2 separate regions of the Homo sapiens genome follow, and region 1 is linked to region 2. A link means that fine-mapping ties the variant in region 2 to the expression of a gene that starts in the linked region. Tissue or cell type: whole blood. Region 2 holds a variant in brackets; the other region holds the start of a gene. All regions are shown on one strand. Distances are from middle to middle.

Evidence for each region. PIP is the estimated chance that this variant, and not a neighbour inherited with it, causes the effect.
Region 1: MTHFS starts here. The variant in region 2 is fine-mapped to the expression of MTHFS in whole blood (INTERVAL, PIP 0.97).

Annotation. Positions count from the first base shown.
Region 1 is chr15:79,894,298-79,901,125 of GRCh38, forward strand. MTHFS (methenyltetrahydrofolate synthetase) reads right to left here and starts at 2,717. Exons shown (of 3, transcript NM_006441.4): 1 at 2,575-2,717. The coding sequence starts at 2,691. The region is part of intron 2 of ST20-MTHFS (ST20-MTHFS readthrough); the gene reads right to left. It overlaps ST20 (suppressor of tumorigenicity 20), which reads right to left. Exons shown (of 3, transcript NR_037653.2): 3 at 4,545-4,828. RefSeq lists a silencer at 2,726-3,025 and an enhancer at 3,166-3,215.
Region 2 is chr15:79,823,628-79,834,972 of GRCh38, forward strand. LOC124903536 (a long non-coding RNA gene) reads right to left here. Exons shown (of 2, transcript XR_007064730.1): 1 at 9,899-11,345; 2 at 425-9,348. Among named protein-coding and RNA genes, the nearest start is that of MTHFS, 68 kb to the right of the region's middle. The variant C/T (reference allele first, on the strand shown) is at 5,191.

The DNA of each region.
Region 1 (6,828 bases), 68 kb after region 2:
TTGAACGTGGGAGGCAGAGGTTGCAGTGAGCCGAGATCATGCCACCGCACTCCAGCCTGGGCGACAGAGCAAGACTCTGTCTTGAAAAAAAAAGAAAATATTAAATTTCATTGTATGTGCTTAAGAGCTGTAAAATGTTCCTTGTATGTGTATATTTGTTTGTACAGAGTAAAATGTATTTATTACTGAGGGTCATGGGTCTGCTTTTTAATTTTTCTCTCTCCTCCTTTAATGCCAGCTCTCAGTCGTCATTCTATTGCTGTCAGTGACTCTGTATCTATGTAAACTATTTCCATCTATAGTTTATGAATTCTAATCTTCTACGGAGAAAGACAACGTAGAAGATTAGAAACTGAATTCATCTTTATTTTCCCCATGCCCCTCCAAAATTTGTTCCAATTCCTACCTTCTTTATGCCTAAGGCTAAACACCATTATACCAAGCTCTAAATTTTGGAATCACTGGTGACTCTCCTCCCCTTCCAGTATTCTCTAACCTCTTCCAATCAGTTGCCAAGTCCTGCTGTTTCTCACTTAACAGTCTCCCATTTGCCTCCTTTCCCCTCATCTTCACTGCCCATGCTCTGGTTTGCATATTTTTCATCTTTCACTTGAATTGGCACAACAGCCCCTTACTGGTCTCCATATTTTTTTTCTTTCTTCCTTCCTCAACCCATTATCCAAATGCTGCCATTATACTCTTCCTAAAGGACATAACAAACAATAGGTAAAGCTCTGAATACATCCCTTTACACACTTCTTTAACTCTCACAATCGACCTACAAGAGTGATATTATCCATTTTATAGACAAGGAACCAAAGGTTCTGAGAGATTATGAGACCTGTCCAAGGATATACAGTTAAAAAACAATGGCGCCAGATTCAGCCCAGATCTGTGCAGTTCCAAAGCCCATGCTAAACTGTATCCTGTCATCTCTTGCCTAAATATCCCTACTCACACTCCCCTATCCCATCTTTCCCTTCACCTGAAAGAATTCATCTTGTTCTCCGAAATTCATCTCAAACATTTTCCAATAGAAAGCTTTCCAATTTCCCCTCCCCAAGGCTATGTTTCCACAACATTGGTGTTTACCTTTATCATATATCTGGCTTCAATGCAATTCTTTATTCATGTCTGTTTCCTCTTCTAGGCTCTCTGCTCCTTTAGAGCAACAATCATATCTTTTTCATCTCCACAACCCAGTATATAGCCAAGTGTGCACTACATAGGTGTTCAACATATGTGAATGAATTAGCTAAATTTTAAACAACTAGATAGTAAGGACAAGAGTCTATATCCTTTACATCTACTAAAACACCCAGCAATGCTTCCTCATAATAGCTAAAATAATTCTGTTTGAACGAACGAATTAACATCTGTATAGATTCCCTCATACACACCTACATAGATGAAGAGAGGGGTGAAATGAGCATATATGCTTTACTGCTTTAACCCATAGGCACCTTGAATTTGAGTAAATAACGGATAATAGAATAGTGAAGGGTAATTAAGAAAGCCTGATGGTATAACTAATTCCAAGGAACATCAAGTTTCCAAATATCTGGTGTCTCTGAAGCATGATGCTGGGAAGACAGATCATCAGTTTGACTTACAACAGAATTACAAATACGTACTTATTCAGGGGACATTAAATTTTTCTTCCTCTGGTGTCTAACAAAAATGAGTCCCCAAAAACTCTTTAGAACATGCCTTCACAACAGGATATGACTGCCATTTTATTGATAAGAAAACTGACATTACATAGACTAAAAATACATAGCAGTGCAGTTGGTGAAAGTAATGAAACAGAGGTCTGCTAACCAACAAACACGGACCCTCACTTATTCCTCTCATTTCTCTCTTCTGTTTCCTACGTTCTTGGGAAGCCTGGATATGATAGCCAAGTCTTCCTTTCGTTCACTCAAGAAAAAGCATTTAATGTTGACCAACTCTGAGACAGGAAAAGCCTAGGCCCTGGAGCTACTGAGACACAGCCTTAGCCCTCCATATGCTTAGTGAAGTCCAGTCAACCTCTGAGTTCTGCCCTTTGGCATCTCCACACCTTTTTTGGTGTTCCCTCGTCTAAAGCACCTGCATCTTTCTCTGGCCATTTTACTAATATAACCGGAGTCTTACTCGTAGCTCATTAACTTTAGGCCTCACTGAGGGAACCTGGGCACTCAGGTGTTCACCCATCTCCTCTACCACAACTTTCTGTTCTCACCGTGCTCTCACCACAGCACCGTCATCCCCACGGAGGGTTTTCGAGCACCAAAAGAGCCACCCATGCAAACAAACTCCCCTCCCAGAGATAAATCTGTCAACCCCTGCCGTCCTCTCGCTCTTTAGCCCCACAACTTTCACTACCGGGCCCTCTCCCCGCCATAGTGCCAAGAGCGTCCAGACCACGACTAGGGGGCGTGCGCGCGCCGGGAGGGGAAACGTGCGCGCGCCGGGGGGTGGGGGGGCGCCTAGCCCAGCGCCAGCACGGACCATGCACAGATCAGCAATCGCTGGCCGCCAGGCCTTCGGAGGGTCTGTCCGCCGCGGCTTCCGCTACGGGCGGCCTCGCACCTTCTGGCTCAGTACGCGGGACTGGCGTAGCCGCTCCTCGGCACTCATCGCCCGCAGACGCTGCTTCAGCTCTCCCCGCAGGCTCCGCTTGGCGCTGCTCACCGCTGCCGCCGCCATCTCACGCCCAAGCCGAGTCCAGTCCCGCCCTCGGCGCCCTGGGCGCCCTCGGGTTCGGTCTCCGCCCCTGGCCGCTCCCAGGTGGATCCGCGGCCTAGGGGCGGGTCGGGGCTCGGGGAAGCGCCCCCACCCCGCTTCCGGGACGCGGGCCCGCGGCGCGCCGCGCGCTTACCTCGCCTCTGGCCCTTGGGACCCAGCCCTCGTGCGGTCCCCGTGGTCCGGCTCGCCCTCCCCGGTTAGGGGAGCGGTGGCGAGGCGCCGTCGCTGCCCTGCCGCCTGACCTCCCTGAGCCTGGGCCCTCACCGGGACCGCGGAGGCGGCAGCGCCACTGGCGGGGATGGTAAAGATGGCCGGCAGTACCCACGGTGCCTGGCATCTCTTGTACTGTTCAGTAGTGGGACTTCAGGGGCCAGAAAAGAAGGGCAAGGCAGGACATGTAGCGAAATCGTCACGAGTCGCTTAACTACAGGGATAGGTCTGACAGATGCCCCGATTTCCTTCTTGTGCAAACATCAGAGTGTAGTTACACAAAGTTACTACACACCTATGCTACACACCTGTACAGCGTATTTTGTACCGAATACTGTAGGCAATTGTAAGCACCGTGATACTTGTGTATCTAAACACAGAAAAGGTAATGTGTTGGTTGGCTACCACATCAGTAGGTATTAGGAATTTTTCAGCTCCATTATAATCTTAAGGGACCACAGTGGTTGATGGAAATGTCCTTATGTGATGAATGTATAGATGATACATAATCGGGAACACTGCTAAAGCAATAACTGTAGTGTAAAAGCCAAATTTTGCGGGTTTCTAGTGTGAATGTATTCCAGGTAATAGTGCCCACATAGGTACTTCCTGTTATAACCATCAGTGACTGTTCATTCCCACCACTCAGCTCTGATTAAAACACAAAAATGAATTAAAACTAAAAGCAGTTGGGGGGTGGGTGAGGCACTTGCAGGAAGAGGTAAAAGAAACTGTTAAGTCTTAAACTGCTCCCAGTAGACAGGCGCCTCAGATGGCATAGACGGTTGCCTCTCAGATGTGACTTCCTAAGAAAACCAGAGCTGTCTCTGCCAAAAATACGTCCCTACTGACCGCCCCAGTGTCTTAATCCCCACCGTTAAGAATCACACCTCCTAGGTAAAGCATTAATTAAGTGCCCGGTGAGAATGCACATGGCTTGAGAGGGGAGTTCTGGCTTCTTTATGGAATCTATCAACAGCTTCCAGGGAAAGCTAATGCAAGTCCCAGGGGGACTGTGTTGTAAGAAAAAGGGAAGGCCAGGCAGGTACAGCGTATACATAGTGCAATTAGATTTGCTGACCTAAAAGTTAGAACACGAGGTCTAACAAACTACGTACTTTTCTAATCTGTTCATTTTTACCAAAAAATAAAAATTAAAATTAACACTAGCTCCACGTTGAATCATTTACCAATTTTCTTTGTTCAGAATATCCCAGAGTATCCTGCATATCAGGTTGCCATATCCATCAACCCCAAATGGCAAGCCAGAGAGAGAAGGCTGGGGAGGAGGCATCAATGGAAACTCTTAAGCAGCCAGGGGCACTGGAAACTGCAGAAAGCATGGGAAGGAAGGAGGGAAGAGGGAAGCCGACCTGAGTCTGCTTCTAGCCTGAGTCCGCTTCTCAGTCTAGTCTGCAGTCTAGCCTAGTGACACAGAAAAGGACTTTTGGGGTAATGGCACACCTTAAAAGTCTGCCTGGGGCAGAAAAGACACCGCCTTCCTGGTCATCATCCCATAATTAATTGCCTGGATCCTGTGTTGAGCTTTTACCCTTTGGCTGAATTTCCAGCCAGACTCCAAAACTGAAGACAAAAATGGCATATAGAGAAAAATACATACAATTTATTCATTAAATAGGGACAAAATTTCTGTAACTCTGGAAGGTCAAGTTACATCATCAAAGTTGTTTATTTAAAAGTAGAAGTATGTGTTGGCAATCGTTTTCGTAAGAGTCAGAAAAATTAGGCCGGTTTCACAATATGGAGTGTCCTTTCTGGTCAACAGTATTGCTTCAGGACAGAAGAGCATTTCACAGATCTTTCCTGTAACTTCTAGAAAAGTCATCCAGCCAGATTTAGGCTCAAGCTTCTTTACAAAGCCATTTTCCTATGAGAGAATAAATTTAACATTTTAAAAATCATTGGAGATTAAGTATGCTGGAATAAAAAGCAAAAATATTTTCATTTAAATAATGCAAATAATCTTCTATCCCTCTAAAGGAGCATTGTGTAACAGAAACACAGTGTGGCCTACATCTGTAATTTTAATTTTTGGTAGCCACATTTTAAAAAGTACAAAAATAGGAAAAATTAATTTTTAAGATATATTTAGTGATAATGATTTCTGTATGTAATCAATGTCAAATCACTAATGAGATAGTTTTTTTCATAACAAACCTTCAAAATCTCATGAGTATTTAGTACTTACAGCGTATCTTAATTCAGACTAGCCACATTTTACTACCATAGTGAACAGCAAGCACAGCTCTAGAGGATAAAAAGTCTTTTTGTTCTTGTTCTTGTTTAATTGTCCAACATTGATTTCAATGCACTTATATTTGTAATATGAATTCTATTATACTGTAAACTGCATTGTATTGAAACTCATGAGAACTCACAGTAAATCCAAATTAAACCAATACCTTTGAAGCTATGAAAAGGTTGATGGTTTCTTTTATAATCTACTCTCTTTGTGATCGGACATAGTTTTAAAAATGTAGGATAACCCAATTAACTGGACATTTTATTTAATTTACAATCTATAATCATAGAATCCTCACTGAAAAGTCCCTCTGAGATCATCTAGCCTAATGCTCTCTCTTAACAAATGAGGAAAGTGAGGCCCACAAAAAAAATCAGTTATCTAAGATTAGCCAAACCCTTGGTGCCTGGACCTGGATTAGAATGCAAATACCCTACTTCTTTCCACTCCATACATTTCCAAACAAGTGCCAAAATATTCGAAAATTGTTAAAATAATTTTTTCGAATGTTCATCTAGCAAACATTTGTGGCTGCATCTTACAGGTTCCAGAACCTGGGGTTACAAATGCCTGCAAGTAGCTCAGAGCAAAGTGTAACTAATATTGAAACGTAAACCAAGCATAACCCTTTGATAGTTGGGAGAGATTCGAGAGCTCTGCGGTGCCTTGGAATCATTTTATGAACATCACTGGCAAAGCAGATGAATACCACCAGCCAGGGGGATTTCATTTGAAAGACTTAGAAAGCCATTTTCTGCCTACGTAAGTGTGCGTCGTGCTCTGAGACATGCTGTCATGCCTTGACAGAGGAAGGAAACTGCCCCTCTTCTTCCTCTTTCCCTTCTGCCAGTACATACTCATAGATTACACTCTAGGGAGGTATCCACTTCATTACGCCCCTTCCTAAACACCATATTTCGCAAGTATGATGAGACCCTCTGAAATGACTTTTATTATAACGATAATCATTGTCTATTATCATTGATCAGTTAACATGTCATATACATCAACGTCTAAAGAAAGGACAGTGAACAAAGAAAATATTGATAAATTCAGCCAGATGAAGATTAAAAATTTTTTTAACTATGAAAAACTAAAAAGAACAATAAACTAGGAAAATATTTACATATACCATGAAAGTGTTCATTCAAATGTGAGAGAAAATTCTCAGGCCCTTAATAGTTTAAAAAGGAGAGACCATTAAACAGAGAAATATAAATCATTCACAAGTATATGAGAAAAACATTAATAGCAGTTAAAGAAATGTACATTTTAACAAAGTCTTATTTTTTTTAGACCTATTAAAGTGGCTTTATTTGATGCCTATTAAACCCTCAAAATTATTAATAGTACCACCCACACTGATAAGGTTGCTATGATATTGTTCTATTGATATAATACTTTCGAAAAGAAAATATGTTTTCCAGTATGCTAGAATATCGTAATTATACACACATCTTATGAACCAGTTACTCCACTGTTAGAAATTTATCATGAGGCAGTCTTCTAAAATATTGGAAGGTAGGGGGCACCAGAAAAGCATACCTATGCTTCACTACTGAACCATTATATCTAAAAGGGGAAAACCAGGCTGGGCGAAGTGGCTCAGAACTATAAACCCAGCA
Region 2 (11,345 bases):
CCTTGCAGGAGCGTGGTTCGGCATAGCATTTTTCCATCTTGTGCAGAAGGAGTTAATGCATTTTGGTGGGATAGTGTGGGAAAAGGTCATCCTGCAAATATTCAAAAGCAATTTCATGAAACAGTGGGCTCTCATCCATCTGCTGTAACAAACTGGCTGGGCGCTGTGGAGCCTTAAGCACTATACATTCAGCGAAATTATGACTCCCACTAGGGATATATCATATTTTTTTCAAGGCTGAAATGAAAAGATATACAGTGTACTGTATACATAGGCCTATTATGCTGGGGAAAATATCAGAACTAGTTTTTGCTGTTTATGGAAGATCAATGATAAATCAACCTGTATAATCTGCAACTGACTGTTTCATTTGTTCTTTAATGTTCCACTGATCTTTTGGAAATGAAGGAACTTCACATAAAACATGTAGTTTGATGAACTTTAATCTTACCCATAATTGGATAACAAAATTGGGTACGTGGAGTAATTAAAAGGATTGTGATAAAAGAGTCGATCTGCAGTTTCACATTGAGCTTCTTCCATAAACCAAGGAGTTCAGTTCAGGGCATATTAGGAAACAAAAAACAGCCCCGTGGGCTAGAAAGCTACATTTTTATTGTTGTTGTTAGAGGGAAAGGTATTTACGGAGAAGATAGACCATGTCAGTGAGGGCTAATATTATCACCTAGGGAGCTCTGAGATAAGGACATCAGTTTTAAAGATTAGGCTTCGACCTGCTAGTGAGCAGGAAGTTAACTGCTCGATTTTTCCTTAAGTGAGGTCATTTTTCCAGACTATCTTTAGATTGGTCCATCTATTACACATTTTCCATTGTTGTCGGTTTTACAGAAATGCAGACTTGCAATTTGCACGTAAGCCTGCACGTGCCTAATCCTTGTTTCTGGGCTCTCCAGTAGTGCCTGTCATGCCTGCTCACAACCTTAAAAACGTCTCTCCTTTGCCCAGCTAAGCCCTGCTGGGCTGGCTCCCCACTCTTTTCTTGAGGCCTCCAAGTCCTGGTATCTGACCTCCAGGACCCTGAGCTGAACCTCCAGCAAAGCTACCACTCCTAGAGCATCCCCTCAACCTGGAGCAGTTCTCTCAATCACTGTTTTCTGGCTTTTTCAACACTTCTCCTAGGCCTGTTCCGGTCCCGCCTTGACCTGCTCCCAACCTCCCCATCCTCAACTACTAACTGACCCCAGACCCAACCTTGTGGATCATCTGCCCTCCAGACCAGCTGTAACTCAGCCACTGCACCAGGTCATTAGCCAGGCTACTCTAGTTCCTTCAAATGCTTGCCTTCCAATAACCCTTAAGAAGCTTTTCTTTGTATCACAGTACATGAAAATAAGGTTAGTTTCTCCATTGGAGAGGAGCCAGCAGGGGTGAGAAAGGGTTCCAGAGACGAGGGTCAGAACTGCACTCTAGTCCTACCACTGGTAGCTGGAAAAAGAACCTAATTTGGAGATACCGAATTATCAAGTGATAGTAAAATAGCCAACAGCCCACAAAGTGCTGATCTACAAGGCACAGATGTGAGATCAAAGTAAAACAATGGTTAGCAAAGGGACTGGTAAAGCACTGAACAGACATGAATGCTGCTACGCGTGGCCAGATCTGCTTTATAGATGAGGAAACTGCCCATCAAAAGAGCCAAGGTGACCCGTCCAAAGCCTCACAGAGAACAAGAGGCAAATTCAGGACTAGAATGCAGGCCAGTCTTCCTACATGCTAGGAATCAGTATTTTTGTTTTCTTCTTCTCTTTTTTAATAATCATATTACTTAGATTTTTGTGTATGATAAAACACACAAGACAGACATGGTAACATTTTGCATCCATTGATCTTTTTTCTATGCTGGTTCCTCCCCACCAAAATACAATTATTGTGATACACTGCTTTTATTTTATTTTTTTAAAAAAGAGCTTGGACATTCTTCCTCTTTAAATATTTGTGTATGATGTTTTTAATGACAACAGAGTGTACAACTGGCATGAATGTAGCAACCCCTTATTATTGTATGGTTGTATTTCACTGGGTAGCAGCAGTCATCACTATTACAATAAAACAGCCTCATGCTGAATATACTTGTATAGAACTTTTGCAAATCGCATACATTATTTCACTGGGATGAATTCCTGAAAGTAGAATGACAGGGTCAAAAGTCATAGAAAATTATAAGATTTTTGTTATATTCTGCCAACTTTCTCTCCAGAAAGACTAAAAAACATACACTCTCCCAGCAGTATGAGTGTCCATTTCCCTGCATCATAGCCCAAACTTAACTGGTTTGATTATTTTTTACTACTCACATGGTTTCAGCTTGCATTTCTTTGATGAAATGTGAAATTAAATAGTTCTTATATTTGTGGCTATCTGTGTCTCCTCTTGTGTGAATTACCTGTTTATGTCCTTTGCCCCTTTACCACTGGGCACACTTCATTGTTTTCCTACTGATTTGAGTAGCACTTACTGGGTAGCCACGGACTAGGACAACCATAGACCTCCAAAGTGGGAAGCATCCTCACATGAGCCAGAGAGAACCACAGGAACTGGTCTTGCTAGATAGCCCTGAGAAAAGGAATTGGACCATTTTGCCCTCCTGCATGAGCTCCACTTCTGCTGACAGCTGGTCCTGGAGAAGGCTGAAGCAGTTGAGGGAGGGTCCACAACAGGACACTACTGCCTCTGTTCTGATTCTGGAACGGGGGAAAGAAGATTGGGGTGGAGGTGAGGAGAAGAGAAGGGAAGGACAAGAGAAGAAAAGGAGAAAAGGAGGTGGGTGAGAGACGAAGGGGAGGGAGTTGGTGCAGGACAGTGGGGAATCCACTGGAGAGGAGCCAGCAGGGGTGAGAAAGGGTTCCAGAGACCAGGGTCAGAACTGCACTCTAGTCCTACCACTGGCAGCTGGAAAAGAACCTAATTTGGAGATACCCTCAAGCAGGCAAAGGAAACTTACATTAGTGGAGGGAGGAAGGGAAGGGGCAAGTGACTACTACAATTCCCAAGCCAAGTACCCTGGGCTTATACCTGATTCCCAGAATCCAAGTCCCTTTCCACAATATCCCTCTGCCTTCTGCATGAAAGCCATCGCAAATTAATGTACCTCTAAGAGGCAAATAACTTCCTCTTAGATTGAACTGCTAGCAAAAGACCAGTCATTTGTCATCTCTGATTAAAATGTCCATGGAAAAAATTAGAAATAATTCAGCAAAGAGAGCTACCACTCTCTCTTTGGAGAGAGTTACAGAATGCAAACTAAAGTCGAAGGTGGTGGTAAAGGCAGCATGCTGCCCCTCTGCATATCAGAATAACCAGGCTCCTTCCTGCCACTATATATACAGGGTTCATTGGGTGGGTGGGGTCACTAGGGTCACCAGAATATGCAACCAGAGCAAGAAGGACTCTAAAGAGCCACTTATTCAGTGCTTCTCAAGTGTGCCTTTGTCAGAAGCACTTGCTAGCACAACAAATCAGTCTTTTTTTTCTGGAAATTCTGGTTCAGTACATCTAGGATAGGACCAGAAAAATCAACATTTTTAAACAACAGACTAAGGTGGTTCTTATGATGTGGCAAGGAGTTGATTTTGTCCAGTGCATCTTACATTCAAATCACCCAAAGAGATTAAAAACCACTATCAGGGAGTTCCATTTCTGCCTTTGATAGGCTAATATATTCAGATCAACTCTACTACCAAGAACAAATAGAAATGCCCTGTTTGAACGCATCAGAGAGCTATCAAATGTGGTGAGGTCTTACGGCACCAAGATCTCAGAGAGAAAGAAAGCACAGAACTGAACCTGATATTTGGCACAGCTTTTTGCCTCAAAGCATTTGTTGATTCTTAAGAAAAACTTAAAAGCTGAGAAGTTGTGCTTTGTAGAAACTGATCAGTGAAGAAGCCAAGAGGAGAAATGAAGTAGAAACTGGCAGCCAGGAGTCTACAAAGCTAAGCAGAGCTTTGCTGCCCCACCATCCTGGGGAAACAAAAATAGTGCAGCCATCACCAAAAAGGAGCGGCCCTGGTATGCAACCCAAGCTTTCAGAAGGAACTCCTGAAGCCTGGGAATAAGGACTAACCCAAATAAGCCAGTATTCACAAAAACTAAAGACTGGCTTCAAATCTGCTCAATCCCAGACTGGATTATAACAATCTGCCCCTATCTTGACTTCCAAAAGCAGAAAGAAGTAAATGCTCTAAGGGGAAAATAGCATCATCCAGAGGCTCAAATTCTCTCTTCAGTTTTTCATACACAATGCCTGACATTCAATAAAAAGTTACAAAAACAAGACCAGGTGTGGTGGCGCTCATGTCTGTAATACCAGCAGTTTGGGAGGCGAGGCGGGCAGATCACGAGGCCAGGAGATCAAGACCATCCTGGATAACGTGGTGAAACCCCGTCTCTACTAAAAATACAAAAAAAAAAAAAATTAGCCAGGAGTGGTGGCATGTGCCTGTAGGCCCAGATACTTGGGAGGCTGAGGCAGGAAAATCGCTTGAATGCAGGAGGTGGAGGTTGCAGTGAGCCAAGAGATCACGCCACTGCACTCCAGCCTGGGCAACAGAGTGAGACTCCATCTCAAAAAAAAAAAACAAACTTTTTTTAAATAAATGAATTATGAAGCATATTGGGAGATGTGCAAGGCCAGAAACCAAGAGAAAAAATAGACATAGAAAGAAAAAGCTCTAAGGAGACTCTGATGTTGGAATGATCACACAAAGACTTTCAAAATAACTGATTAATATGTCCAAGAAATTAATTTTAGCAAAGAGTTAAAATCTATTTTAAAAAATCAAATGAAAATTCTAGAACTGAAAAATACAATAATTAAAACTAAGAACTAAATAGATGGGTTTAATAGCAAACTAGACACAGCTGATAAAAAGATTAGTGAATTCAGAGATAGGTCAATAGAAAATATCCACACTGAAAGAATGAGAGGAAAAAATGAATGGAAAATACAGGTGGTAGTAGAGGGGCATGTATGGGACATAATGGGACATGGCAAGCAGGTCCAACATACATGTACTTGGAGTCCTGGAGAGGAAAACAACAAATGGGTCAGAAACAATTTTTACAGACATGATGACTGAGAATTTTCCAACACTGACAAAAGGTATCAAATCACAGATTCTAGAAGTGTTATGAACCCTAGAGGAGTTCAAAGAAAACCACATTTAGGCA[C/T]ATGTAGTAAAACTGCTAAAAAACAAAAACAAATGGGAAAATCTTAAAAACAACCAAAGTTAAAAAGTAAATCAATTTTTAATTTATTAATCCATTATTTACTTTCATTATGTATTAATGGTCAATTATATCAGAATCTCTGAGAGTTAGGCCAGGGCATGGGGCAAGTGGAGAGGGCTTTTTACAAATATACATTCTAGAGCACCATTAGAGATTGTGATTGAGCCAACTTGGGGCAAGGCCCATGAATCAACATTTTCAGCCATCAACAATGGAGTTGATTCTGATGTAGAAGTTCACAAACTACACTTCCTCAAACGTAGCTCTGTCCTTATCCCTTTATAACTAAGGAAACAGAGGCCCATCCAGGTAAGACTGAGGTCAGCTCAAGGTTATACTGTGAATCAATGGCAGGGCCACAGATAGCACATTGTACAGTCACATGGCAATTCCAAGAAGCAACTCTTCTAACCTGGTACCTACAGGCATCCTAGTCCACAGCAAGGAAGGCAGGGGTCCCAAGTGCCTGTAAGGATTCTTAGCCACAGGAAAGATATCAGGAAGGGATTGAAAATACTTGCTCACCTCTACAGGACAGGCATGTGTGAGGCACTTTTACAAATTCCTTTTGATTCCAAAAGTGGGCCCAACTCTATACCATTTATCCAACTTACTATACTGTATTAAATGCTTGATCCATTATCTCTTTTAACCTTTACCACAAACCTATGAGGTAGATATTATTATCATTCCTCATTTTATAGAGGCACAGAGAAGTTAAGTGACATATACAGGGTCACACAGATAAGTGGGGGAGTCAGGAAATGAACCTATTTAGAGTATACATTACTCCTCCGTTCTACTGCCCAAACCTGACTCCCCTATCCCCACCCACCCACCAATTCTCACACACTTACCCTGCAGGTCAAAGGGTGGCTTCTTTAACATCTCCGGCTCTAGACTGTTTTTGGTGATGGGATAAGCCCAATGGAGCAAAAGGAGAACAGGAACTGGAACTGGACCCCTAGGTAATCACCCTAGCACCGCCACTCCACTCTGTGGATTCACCAAAGTTCCTTCCCTCCTGTGGAGGTCAATTTCTTCATTTGGAAAAGAGGGTTTTCATACCTATCTCATGATTGTGGTGAGATTAAATACCTTTGAAAGCCTTTCACTACTCCAAATGTGAGCTCCAGAGTGTGGCTGACATGGGAGGGGATAAGTGTGGGCTCTACTGTTCTTGGAAAGACCTAGGCACTGTGTCCCATAGTGGCTGGCTGCACCGTGGACGGCTCCCGAGAAGCTGGGAGGCTCAGTCTACAGAGTGACGCTGTGCTGCCGGCCCGCAGTGTGCCGCAGTGTTCATTTCCGCGAGAGCCTACGCCTTTACGAGGTGAGCTCATGCTCTGTCCACTATCCGCACAGCCGACAATTCCCACGTTATTAAATGGCTCACCTGGCTGCACTTATTTTATAAAATAGCATGAGCAGCCATGCAGTTATCTATAGGTTTTTCAGTAAACTTGGAAATCTGATCATCTCAGTCTCTGAAATTTCCCTTCTGGTGGCTGATGTTGATGAGATTTTTTTTTCCTACTTTTATCTAGGCTTTAATAAAAGGCTGATAGATTAAATGGTATGAAAAAAATGCTTTTTTACAAGTGATAATAATACAGACAGGGGTAATTCTGCGCAAAACTGTCAAGAGAATAAAATGAGGTATGGAACTCTCCCCTCTCCTTTTGTTACCTTTCATCTCCATGGCGGTTGGGGGCTGTGACCCACCTTCACCCCTGCTGCAGCTGCCCTGAGCTCAGCATCCTCAGGTGATTTTCTATGATATTTGGAAATCTTTTATAGCCCCTTTGCCCCTAGAAGAAAACTCCTATTGTGCTGCCTTCTACCAAATAACATGTTGGGGGTTTAGTAATCACATGACAAAGATCTTTCCTCTGCAGACAGGCCTATATCCCTGGGGTTCAAGGGGAAGGATTAGAGAGGAAAAGAGGGGAAGGTCGAGGCGGAGGTCAGGGATGAGCAATAAGAAGAGAGGAGGAAGAAGAGACAGAAGGATAAAGGGAGACAGGAAGAGGAAGATGGGTATGGAGGGGGAGAAGGGGGATGTGTAGTGGTTGGAACATCTGCAGAGACTGAAAAAGCAAGAAATGTAACAACTTGGTGAAGACACAAAGGCTTGTAAGGAAACCAAGAGAAAAGCCAGGTTTGGGGAAAATGTCAGAGTCCAACAGAATAGACTAGCCAGCTGGGGATGGGTTGAGTCTTGGGGCTTCATAACCAGAGAGAATTAAGCCTAAAGGGCATGCCTAAGCTAACAGAGACCCCATTGGGCCCAGCCTTCCTTGGAAGGAGCTGATTACTGCAGACCTGACCTGAAGGGCTGAGCTAAAGCAGCTGCTCTTGCCCTGGCCCAGGGTGTCCTGGTGGGAGGCAAGGTGAGGCCTTTGTGGCAGCCTCTTTGGCCATGTGAGGACGGCCTGGTCTAGCAAGCGGGTATAGGTCCTGCAGGGGAGACCAACGCTAAGCACCACAGGAAAGGAGCCCTATTCCCAGCCTTCCTGGTACGGGCCCAGTGACTGCCCCTTCAAATCTGTCACATTCCCATAGAAGCCTTTGTAGACTCAGGTACATGAGGTAACTCAAGCAACCAGGCCCAACGTGAGCTGGAAGCTTCAGGACCCCTGTGAGGGCTGGAGAAGAGAGCCAGGAGTCCTCCCCTTCCCCTGCACTCCAAATGAGGAGCAGGTAAAGGGCACTGAAAAGAACATGGGCTTTCAGATCAGAGGACACTTAGTTCCTTGGTTCAAATCCCAAGCCAGCACATCCTTGGAAGATGGCCTTGGCCTCAGTTTCATCTTCTATAAAATCAGGACAGTGATACTTCATAGTGTTGTGAAACTAGATATGCTAATATATGTAAATATATGGAAAGTAGTTGTTCCACACTTCCTCTTCCCCAGCTCCATGTGAGCACATGGAAGGACTTTGGCCAGAGCGACACACCTGTCCTTTCACTCCTCCTCCCCTCACTCCTCCTCACTCTGGGTGGTGAGTTACACAGAAGGAGCAGAGCATGTTAGATTCAGCCCCATCTGGTTTCTTTATTTTGGATCTGACCCCCCACAGGAAGAGTGCTCTTTCTTCAATACCACCTGTATTTTCCATTCATTTTTTCCTCTCATTCTTTCAGTGTGGACATGCCATGTGCTGAGCTCCTGCCCTAATGAGAAAGCCTACGGTGTCTGGCCAGTTCTTCTCGTGAATGGTTGGAGAATGGATGTCTCTGATGTAGGAGTCTAGTACTAGGAAGCTGTATACCCAGGCTACATCCACCAATCCATTATTAATCAAGCTGATCTTTCGACCTAGCCCCATATGACCCCTGTGTCTGTCAGGTGGTTCTGAACTCAGGGGAGGAAGAGTGATATTTGGTGGCTTTCTGATACATAGAAAGTACTCATTAGTACCAGCTACATATGCATCCCCAGAGGCAGGGTCCTTCCACTAAATCTTCTGGTGACTCTCAGTCCACCTGAAGGGACACTTATCCCCCTATATAAAGTAACCCCAAATGAGCAAGAATTGGTCAGCAAGCCATAGTCTTCCATTTCAGTTGTATGATGGACCTTGGGAAAAACAAGAGTTTTATTTCTAACTTGCCTCTGTCCCAGAATCTTGACACCACTCTGCTCTTTGTCAATGTGTGATCTTAAATGAGCCACCACATCCTCTGCTTAGAGCTCCCATCCTCAACCCACATATTTATTTGACTTCCTCCAAGAAAACTTCAGATACCATGGTCTGGAAGACACAGGTTGCTTCTCTTTCCTCTCCACTACCCCAGGTAGTTCTAATCACAGGGCCCTGATTCCCAACCCAAACAAGGCCAATCAGAGGCTCCCTTCCAGGGATTTAAATATTGAGCAGAGATACCCTGGTGGTACCCTAAGAGGTTTAAAAGTTTCTACCACTAAGATTTCTGGGGCTCCCCTGCTTTGTGTCCTTCCTGCTGCCTATGTTTAGTTTGATTTTGCAAACTCCCCAGTATCATTCTGTTGTAGTTCAAGTTCCCCAGGAAACAGATTGAGCTGGTGATTTGTGTGCAGAAAGATTACTGGAAAGTGCTCTCAGCAACAACACCTGTGAGGGAGGAAAGGAAGCAGGATTGAGCAGAGACTAGGACCTGAAATGAAACTGTGCACTGCACATAGGCCTCAGCCAATTCCTGGGGAGCTGGAGCTAGGATGGCCCTTCAGAGGTGTCCTGCCTTGAAGCAACGAAGGCTTTGCACCTCCAAAATGACCAGGTATTGGGTATAGGCTGCCATCAAGAAGGGGCTGTAACCTTGGGCAAGGTGGCCCTCCTTAGCCAAGGACAATTGCAGGGGAGGCCTCAGCTCAGAGCTACCTGCCGCCAACATCCTGGGAGCTGGAGGAGAGCATACCTCAGTCCTAATGAGGAATTGGGAGGCATGCCACAGCATCTAGTCCTCCTTCCAATAGCTCGCTTTTTTCTTACTTTAGTCTTTGCTTGAAGCAAAGAACCATAACTGATATACAAAGCAATCTTAGACTATAGACTCCAATTTACCTCCTGCTCTTAGAGACCCTCTTCAACATCTAAATCAAGGTTTATCTGTCCACCTCAAATTACCCCCCATTCAAAAACCAGAACAAGAACAAGAACTCACATCAACAGGAATGCTGTGCGAGCTGTTAAGCAGTGTGGGGTTCTGCTTGGCAATCAGTCTATGACTGTCAGCTCTTCATTTCCAGTAATGATGTACAGAAGGATGTTAGATGGGACTTCTCCTTTGGTCTAGAATTTTCCACAAAGCAAGGACAATAAATGACAAGTATCACCATATTCTAAAGAGAGGTAATGAACATGTTGTTTTAGACTGGGTCCCCAAAAAAGCAGTGCCTGGGACAAGGAATTGCATGCAGAAAGTATATTTTGGGAAATGATCCCCAAAAAACAGGAGTGGGGACTGGGAAGACGGAAACAGAAGGAAGGCCAATTTGAGGGTGAATTATCCACCTGGTTCCCACCATGGGCACAGAAGTTTGCTGCTACTAGCCTAACAATCCTCTCAGGAATGATGGAGAATACACCTCGGAATTGTCTGCCAAAGGGTTGGAAGACAAGATAATTTATCCACTGGCTTCTAATCCACACTGGCCAAGCATTCATTACCCCTTGAGGTGTTAACTACAACACACTTCCAGGTTTGTACATGCACCAGAATGACTGAGAAGGTCCTTGCAAGGGTCTCACTCAGATGTGACATTCCAGGGCTGAAAATCATGCAGGTGAGGAGAACTGCTGTCTGGCTTCACCTGTATGCAGCCAGTCTGCTGTACCCAATGGCTGGAGGGAAAAAAGTGGTCTGAAAGGATGTAGGTACAGGACAAGGGGTGTCCAACATGCACATCCACGCAGGATTTACCAACAGAGAGCCAGAATGGCTCTTTAGTCGCCGCCACCATCCTTCTCCAGGTTGTATTAGAAAAAAAGAGATTAAGCAGACTCTTTGAAGAAAGAGGACTTATAAGTGTAAGGGTGCTGTGACATTTTCCTTCCCCTCCCCACGATTCCCTGCCATCACTCCAAGCCAAGTAAAGGCTGCTTCAGAGTATGGAAGTGTTTGCCAAAAGAGGAATCTACCTCCTGGCAGAATCAGACACCCTGGTGCTACTGTTAGCTCTGGGAGGAGAGGAACAGCAGTTCCTGGGAGAATGTGACACGTGACTTCCAGCACTTGGGGAAGTAGCAGAACTCTGACAGTTGTGGACTGTCTGGAGCAGCCCTCAAGAGTAGCATGGGAGCAGGTGACACTTCCAGTCTGGCGTGCAGCCAATTACCTATTTAGTCGAGTAGTCACCTCAAGTGGAACTATTAATAGACTCAAGTCATCCTGAAAGGACTTGGTCAAGAAGGCTGCCACTGGGCTAGGGAACTTCAGGAGTGTGCTTCTGCAGGGCAGGATCTGAGCGGAGACTGTCAGAAGTAAGCTAGAGAATGGTACAATACACACAGTGCCAGCAGAGGTTCTCCATAAAAACCACAAAGGAAATCTAAGAAAATCCACTGGGCATTTGACACACAGAAGGCACTGATGGCCAGGTTATACTAGC